Linked DNA regions of Homo sapiens: region 1 is linked to region 2. The links come from fine-mapping of genetic effects on gene expression. A gene starts in region 2. The other region holds a variant in brackets. All regions are shown on one strand. Distances are from middle to middle.

The links. PIP is the estimated chance that this variant, and not a neighbour inherited with it, causes the effect.
Region 1: its variant is the best candidate, but not a certain one, in a credible set for the expression of CLEC5A in whole blood (TOPMed, PIP 0.55).

What each region holds. Positions count from the first base shown.
Region 1 is chr7:141,870,571-141,874,978 of GRCh38, reverse strand. No RefSeq gene overlaps it. Among named protein-coding and RNA genes, the nearest start is that of PRSS37, 31 kb to the right of the region's middle. The variant T/C (reference allele first, on the strand shown) is at 1,921.
Region 2 is chr7:141,944,313-141,948,720 of GRCh38, reverse strand. CLEC5A (C-type lectin domain containing 5A) reads left to right here and starts at 1,747. Exons shown (of 7, transcript NM_013252.3): 1 at 1,747-1,914; 2 at 2,409-2,507; 3 at 3,321-3,380. The coding sequence starts at 2,429. RefSeq lists an enhancer at 2,066-3,265.

The DNA.
Region 1 (4,408 bases), 74 kb after region 2:
AATCACAAGCACAGGGACTTTACCAGCAAACTTGCCCCGAGTTTCTCAACCAGCTTACTGTTGAAGAACACTGCCAAACAAAGGCAGACTGTGAAGACTGCATTAAGTACCTATTTCATTGTACAAACATCGACACACAGCCACAAGGTTAAGAAAAATCAGAGAATCATGACATCACTAAGCAGGCAAAATAAGGTGCCATTGAACAAAATAAGGTGCCACTGACTGACCCTAAAGAGATGGAGATGGAAGAACAGCCTAACAAAGAATTTAAAGTTCCTATTTTAACGAAGCTCAGAGAATCTCAAGAAAATACAGAAAAATAATACAGAAATTAGTGAGAAACTTAACAGAGAAATGGAAATTAAAAAAGAAATCCTGGAGCTGAAATATACAATAAACTAAATTTAAAATCCCAATACAGAGCATCAACAGCAGAATTGATCAAACAGAAGAAATACGTGTGAACTCAAAGTATTTAACAATATACAGTAAGAGTAAAAAACAGAATGAAAATAAATTTTAAAGGCTTATGGGATAATATCAAAAGACCAAAAGTATGGGTCATCAGGATTCAAAAGAAGACAGAGAAAGCGAAAGGGGTATAAATAGTATTTAAGAAATAATAGCAGGAAACTTTCCAAACCTAGAGAAAGATGTAAATATCTAGGTGTAAGATATGAGGTATCAGATTCAATCCAAATGAGATACCCCATGACGTATTATAATCAGTAGCAGACCTAAGATAAAAAGAGGATTCTAAAAGTAGCATCATTAAAAGATGCTAGAAGCTCTGCTCCATCAAAACTTGGAAGCAAACCAAAAAAGAAGAAGATAGAAAAGTTGGTAAAACGAAAGCTATCACATGAAAACTGTGAATGGATGTCCCTGCACAAGAGCTCTATACCAGGCCTACAGAACACAAAGCCAGAGCTTTGTTAGGTTTAGGTTTGAGATGTATGTAGAACTATTTGGGGATGGGGGAAAGGAACTGCATTTAAAAATTAATAAGTAACTTATTAATTACAGAAAGAATAAATTTCATAAATTATGAAATATTTATATAAGCATATTATTACTAAATATGTACCAAAAAAAGTTTTTGACTCTGAAGAGTAGTACCATGAGTAAAATGGGAAAGAGAAACAATCTGCCATTTTCCTATATCAATCACTTACAATTACTTTAAATTTTTTAAACTATGCCTATATGATTATGATTTTAAATAATTTAAATATTTAAATTAAAAATATAAATATAGCAAAAACATTACAGTCAATGATGAAAGGACAATTAAAAACATTTTCCTGGCAAAAACTACCACAAATTCAACATTATTTTTACATAAACTTCTGTTTATATTCACTGCAATAGCACAAATACACACTTGAAAGATACATGTAATCGAAACATATTCTATGTTATGATTACTTACTGTTGCACCTACATATACTGTTTATGTAGGCCCATGTTGTGATCTCAAAAGTTGGTAACTTCTGCATACTTGTTAGCTAATATAAGATCATTTGACATGGTGCATAGAAGATTATGACCTAAACAGAAAATGAACAATGAAAAGTCTAGAAATAATTTTCTAAGGGAGGATAGTACAGAAGGTAGATTTACTATACGTGAGCTATGTAGATGCTTTCTTGTGTCCCTTTGGTTTCAGCTGTTTCCTTTTAGTTTGGAGTCCAAGGGTTATTAATAGAAAATTATATAAATATTTACATATAAAAATGAGTATGTGAGTATAAAAGTAACTGTTTAGGCAGTTTTTTTTTAATAGGGAGACTCCAAGTTTGGGTAGACTCCTCTGATGCAGAGTCTATAATAAGCTCAGAGTTGCTAACCACTGAAAGTGCACCTGAGCGGAAAAGATGACATCAGGCATGGTATTCAAAAATAATGTTAACTCTT[T/C]GGAATGAAGCTATAGGAACTAAAATGGATGACGATTCTAAAATAAGGATCTGATAAATGTACATGGCTTCTGAGGAGTTGTAAAGCCTGTTAGATACTTTTGTACACTGCTGTCGTGGCAATAGAAAGATATAAGATTTAAGCATAAAGTCACTGGCACACACTGATGGAAGACTTATGAGGAAGCCTGATGCCATGGAGAAGAGACAAATATACCTAAATTAAAAATAAGACTTGAGAACATGGATGGGAGACAGAAAAAATTAGGGATTGGCTTCCTACCACCAAAGGATTGCCATTCAACCATGCGGGTAAACATTTAGAATTACACATGAATTGAAAGAATCCTATTCCTTGAGGCTTTAAGACAATTTGATCTAAGGTTTCAATACATTCCTAATCAAAATGTCAGCAAGTTTTTTGTGGATATCTACAGACCGATTTCAATATTTATATGGAAAGTGGTTAGAGAATAGCCAAAGCAGTTCTGAAAAATAAAAGTAATTTCTTAAATTATTTCTTTATTCAATCATTCATTTACATTATATATTTATAAAATATTAATATTTTATACTATAAGTTATAATTCATTCTACATCATTTAATATGCTAAATTATTCTAGCTTTGGCCATTGGGAGCTGCTATAGACTGAATATTTGTGTTCCCCCCAAATTCTTGAAACACAATCTCCAAGATGATGGTATTCAGAGTTGGACTTTTGGAAGGTGATTAGGTCATGAAGAGGGAGCCCTTATAAATGTGATTAGTGACCCTATTAAAAATACCCCAGTGACCTCTCTTGCCCCTTATACCACCACCAGACACCACATATGCTAGTGCTTTAATCTTGAATTTCTCATCCTCAAGTGCTGTGAGAAGTAAATTTCTATTTTGTATCAGCCATGCAGTCTACGGTATTCCATTATAGCATCCCACAGGGACTAAGACTGAGACTCAGGTTGGGTCCTGTATCCCTTTGACATGCTCCATCCTTTTGTTTTGAAAAGCATTTTTTTATTGTGAAATTTTTTCTTTTTCTTTTATTATACTTTAAGTTCTAGGGTACATGTGCACAACGTGCAGGTTTGTTGCATAGGTATACATGTGCCATGTTGGTTTGCTGCACCCATCAACTCATCATTTACACACATTAGGTATTTCTCCTAATGCTATAACTCCCCCAGCCCCCCACCCTCCTACAGGCCCCAATGTGTGATGTTCCCTGCCCTGTGTCCATGTGTTCTCATTGTTCAATTCCCACCTATGAGTGAGAACATGCGGTCTTTGGTTTTCTGTCCTTGTGATAGTTTGCTTAGAATGATGGTTTCCCGCTTCATCTATGTCCCTGCAAAGGACATGAACTCATCCTCTTTATGGCTGCATAGTATTCCATGGTGTATATGTGCCACATTTTCTTAATCCAATCTATCATTGATGGACATTTGGATTGGTTCCGTCTTTGCTATTGCGAACAGTGCTGCAAGAAACATACGTGTGCGTGTGTCTTTATAGTAGAATGATTTATAATCCTTTGGGTATATACCCAGTAATGGGATCGCTGGGTCAAATGGTATTTCTAGTTCTAGATCCTTGAGGAATCACCACACTGTCTTCCACAATGGTTGAACTAATTTACACTCCCACCAACAGTGTAAAAGCGTTCCTATTTCTCCACATCCTCTCCAGCATCTGTTGTTTCCTGACTTATTAATGATCGCCATTCTAACTGGCATGAGATGGTATCTCATTGTGGGTTTGATTTGCATTTCTCTGATGACCAGTGATGATGAGCATTTTTTCATATGTCTGTTGGCTGCATAAATGTCTTCTTTTGAGACGTGTCTGTTCATATCCTTTGCCCACTTTTTGATGGGGTTGTTTTTTTCTTGTAAATTTGTTTGAATTCTTTGTAGATTCTGGATATTAGCCCTTTGTCGGATGGGTAGATTGCAAAGATTTTCTCCCATTCTGTAGGTTGCCTGTTTACTCTGATGATAGTTTTTTTTTTGCTGTGCAGAAGCTCTTTAATTTAATTAGATCCTATTTGTCTATTTTGGCTTTTGTTGCCATTGCTTTTGGTGTTTTAGTCATGAAGTCCTTGCCCATGCCTGTGTCCTGAATGGCATTGCCTGGGTTTTCTTCTAGGGTTTTTATGCTATTAGGTCTTACACTTAAGTATTTAATCCATCTTGAGTTAATTTTTTTATATGGTGTAAGGAAGAGATCTAGTTTCAGCTTTCCACATATGGCTAGACAGTTTTCCCAGAACCATTTATTAAATAGGGAATCCTTTCCCCATTGCTTGCTTTTGTCAGGTTTGTCAAAGATCAGATGGTTGTAGATGTGTGGTGTTATTTCTGAGGTCTCTGGTCTGTTCCACTGCTCTATATACCTGTTTTCTGAGGTCTCTGTTCTGTTCCACTGGTCTATATACCAGTACCATGCTGTTTTGGTTACTATAGCCTTGTAGTATAGTTTGAAGTCAGG
Region 2 (4,408 bases):
TTCTCTTTTGATGATATTTGAAAGATCTCTTATACCTCTTTGTTATAAAAGATTCACTTGCTATCCAAGTGTATAGATTTTATTAAGTTATTCAGAAAGTCTCTGTTAAAAACTTTCTAAATAATAATAACCAAGTCTCCTGATTCCCATACTTCCTAACATAGCTGGCATAATTGGCCATATTTATTGTCCAATAAATATATGGATCCTTCTGGACAGCAATCTAGGGTCTAGAAGTAATTACCTTGTGACCAGATAAATCAGGTTCAATGAGATTTTTCAAAAACACAGAGGACTATCCAAGTAGAACAAAACACAACTTTAATGTTCCAAAGCCCTCCAAATGTACATGTCTTTTGATCCAGCATTTATATTTCTGATAACTTAGCCCAAGAAAGTTATTAAGGACATGTAAAAGGATGCATGCACTTAGCTGTTCACTGTGCATTGGGAAGATAGTTAGAAGAGTTTTAGAAAATAGTTAGAATACTAAGGATTTATGTTTAAGATGCTGAGTATCACGCTATTGAAATTACAAGCATTATCTTGCTCATTTCTCGGAACAATCCTATGTGGTATTTACTATAATTACTCCTATTTATAGATAAAGAAATGGAAGGTAAAGAGACTCAGTAACTTAATCAAGGATGTTCAGCTAGTGAAGGTCAGCTCCAGGAATCAAAAGCAGGACTGATTTTTAAAACTTTGTTCTTGTCCACCACACTTTACTAGAAGATTTGTGGTTATGCAATTGTTAAAGAAATAATATACTTTTACACCTGAATAAATAAATCATATAGTTTTACACCTGAATGCTATGCACATATTAAATAATACATTATCAAAATCTATATTTTGACATGAAAAGATATATATAACATAGTGTTAGCTTAATCTTGAGCAGATAGATTGCAAAACAATATGTACAATATGTTCCCATTGTTCTTTGTGAACCAGTGTTTTTCTGTCTATCTATCTATCTATCCATCTATCTTTCTATCTACCTACTCATCTCGAAAGGATACACCCTGAGGTGCTAGCAATGACTATAACTAAATGTACAAGGTTATAAATGGTTTTGTTTTCTCAATTTTCCTTGTTAATATTTTCCAGCCATTTTTTTGTCATGAGCACAGTAGTTTTCATAGTAGGGAAAATAAAAGCAAATTTTCAAATTTAACACGAAATTAAAAACTCCTTGACAATAGGACTTGAGTATTGTTCACCCCAGCCCACTGCTGTATCCAGCAGAGTGCCATGTTCAAGAAACACTGAAGAGCCACCATGAGGTCTGGAAGGTGAGCAGGTGGTGCCAGAGAGGAGTCCATGATAAAGGGGAATGAGCAGAGCTCCAGCAAATGGAGCAAATGGAACAGCAAGAACCTGCTCATTCATATTAGTGTCTTCAACTGGATTTCTTAACATTTTTAACTTGACATAATTTCAGACTTGCAGAAATGTTGTAAGGAAAGTACAAATAACTTCCAGCTACCTTTTATCCAGATTCAATGTTTGTTAAAATTTTACTACATTTCTCTTCCCACTGTATTTCAAGGAGATTTAGACACAGAGGAAGGGTGAATCTGTGTTGAGGTATTTTGTTTTCCAAATTGTCCTTAAAATGTTCCTCTGCATTAGAACTCTCCTGGCAGGAAGTCTGCTCTTGCCACCACTAGGGCTAGAGAGTCTCTTCCCTTCTTTGCCCCGCCTGCTCCCTTTGCCAAGAACCCCACTGAACAGGAAGAGGTATTTCTTGGGGATGCTACCAAGGCAGAGACTGTGAAGAAGGAAGAACGTTGCTTGGGCAAAAGGAGCATATTCTCAGGAGACGGGGCCCCTGCCTGCCACACCAAGCATTAGGCCACCAGGAAGACCCCCATCTGCAAGCAAGCCTAGCCTTCCAGGGAGAAAGAGGTGAGTCTGTCTGTCTGTCTTGGCTGCATGGACTGTTGACCAATGCCAAGACCTTCAGGGATGCCTGTCCTGTCTGTCACCTACCCCTGGTATTTGGAAGACTGAGGCTTCTGACAACTTAAGTCAGTATGGTGAAGGCTACAGACTAAGGTCCTTGGGAACAAGGGTCATTTCAAGGATAAGGGTTCTCAAAATACAGGAGAGGGTTTAATTATTAGACAGAATTTAGGAGGCCACAAATAGGGCAAGGCTGAGGCCTGGAGTAGGGAATGAGTGAAGGAGAGGCAGTATGCCAAGTTCCAAGGCTCCAATCAATACATGATTCTTTCTGTGTTCGCGGCCCACGCTGGGTCACCTCCTGGTACCTGTCAATGTCATGCCTGTCTTCCAAGCCTGCCTTGCTTTGGGTACTCTGAGCGAGAGGCTGGGATATGTCCTAGTGAAAAGCAGCCTTGTACCCGAATTCTGATGCTGCTGTGCTCTAATCTTCACAGGCCCCTGCAGCTCCTTCATCATGAACTGGCACATGATCATCTCTGGGCTTATTGTGGTAGTGCTTAAAGTTGTTGGAATGACCTTATTTCTACTTTATTGTGAGTATTTGAGCAACCTCTTGCCCCAGACTTCATGTTGTCTTGCTCATTGACTCTTCTCTCAGAATGCATGGTTGTGTGTAAAGGTTACATATCCAAGTCTTTCCACCTGAGACTAACTGACCCAACCTGAGGTCAATTGGCAATGCCTTTCTCACTCCCCAGCACACACAGTGGCCCAGGCTCCTTGGTCTACCTTGGAGATATAGAACTTACCAGTTTCTGATGGTTAGAACGCCACGCAAAGCTTTTGCTAGTAGAGTATTATTTGGGTGATCTCAGCTGAAGTACTTGGCAGCGCTTGTTATTGTTGGCAAAATCTAAAATACAGCTCCAGTTCAACCCAATGACAAGGCCATGGTAAGAGCTGAAGTATAATGTAACAGGATTTAACTGAGAAAGAAATTTCTCTTTGTATACATATAAATTAATTCATCCAAATGCCTAGTTAAAGAAGCCTCCTATGAAAGGATTTTACTGCAATCAGAAACTAGAATCTTCTCTAGCCCCAGAAGCCAGTAGGGAAAATAAATGAGGAAGGAAACGTGAGTGGGAGGCAGTAGTTAGCTAAGAGGTGTCTTCCTCATGATGCAATCTGAAGGTGCAATTCCTATCATGTCAGACAGCAGGACAGAAATATGAATAAGGGAACGTATTCACAAAACCACATTTATGCATCTTCACTGAGTCAGAGAGTTCAGTATTTCCCACTAATAGTCACAGTACCCTAGCAGCCCCTGTGCTGATACTTGTTTGTCATATTCATCATGCAGTCACATTTGGGGCTGAGCCAACAGCTGATTTTCTTTTCAGTCCCACAGATTTTTAACAAAAGTAACGATGGTTTCACCACCACCAGGAGCTATGGAACAGGTAATCTGCATGGTGGTAAATCTTCTCCCCATCCTCCTGCTACTTCTATGCTGAATTCCTAGAGACCTTCCACACAGCCTCCTTTCCCAAGAAATTCTTTTGTACAAAGGGTCCATAAAGATCTTCTAATTAATTCCCTTTCTTTTACATATGAGAAAACCAAGAGCAGACTGAGGGAAATTTCTGATCCTTAGTTTTTCTCCTGGATATGGGGATGATTTATATCTAATCATTGTAATAGAATGTGAAAGTGCTTAATAGCCAGTAGCTATGGGAGATAGAGAGATGAGTGGGGCATGGTTCTCCTCTCCCGATTAAACCAGCTTCCTTCTGAAGCCTTTCCCAACAACATCCTCTCACTTCCTCTTAAGACACCTATTACTACTGACATCGTTAGGAGAAAGACCGTTTCTCATTTATCTTAGTATCAACAGAGGCAACCCAATACAGTGAGCTGTATGGAGAAAATACTCATAAAATATGTATTGAGTCCTTAAGTTATAATCTCAAAGTAGTTTCTGATGAAAACCAGGCTATTACATCTTAGAGTCTATAAACGGGGTACTGAAATAAAAAGTGAATGCCAATTTGTTTCATTAAGATAAATGTAAGTAACTAATTTGATGTCAGAGTAAAGTGGTCTTCAACCACAATGGACAAATAACTGGCAGCCCAATTAGATGTTTGACCAGCCTCTGAAGCCACTGCGGCTGCCTGCTCAGACAGCCAGTGTTCCCAGGGAAATGAGGCCCCTATATGGATTTCTAGAAATGAATGGACCCTTCCCTGCTTATAGAAAATCTCCCTAAAGTTCACCTGCTTCCTTGTCTGATAATATCCCCTTGGCCCTGAAATTTTGTTCCAATTAGCTTCAATCCTTAGAGCTAATACAGTGCTGATGAGAAAAGAGTCCCAGAGTTGCCCAGGATTATGAATTTTCATACTGAATCTGGGACACCAGAAGTAGAAAGAACAGCAAAGATGCTGTGTGGAGCCTGGGCGAGAAGTACTCCAAACAGTCCTTTGGA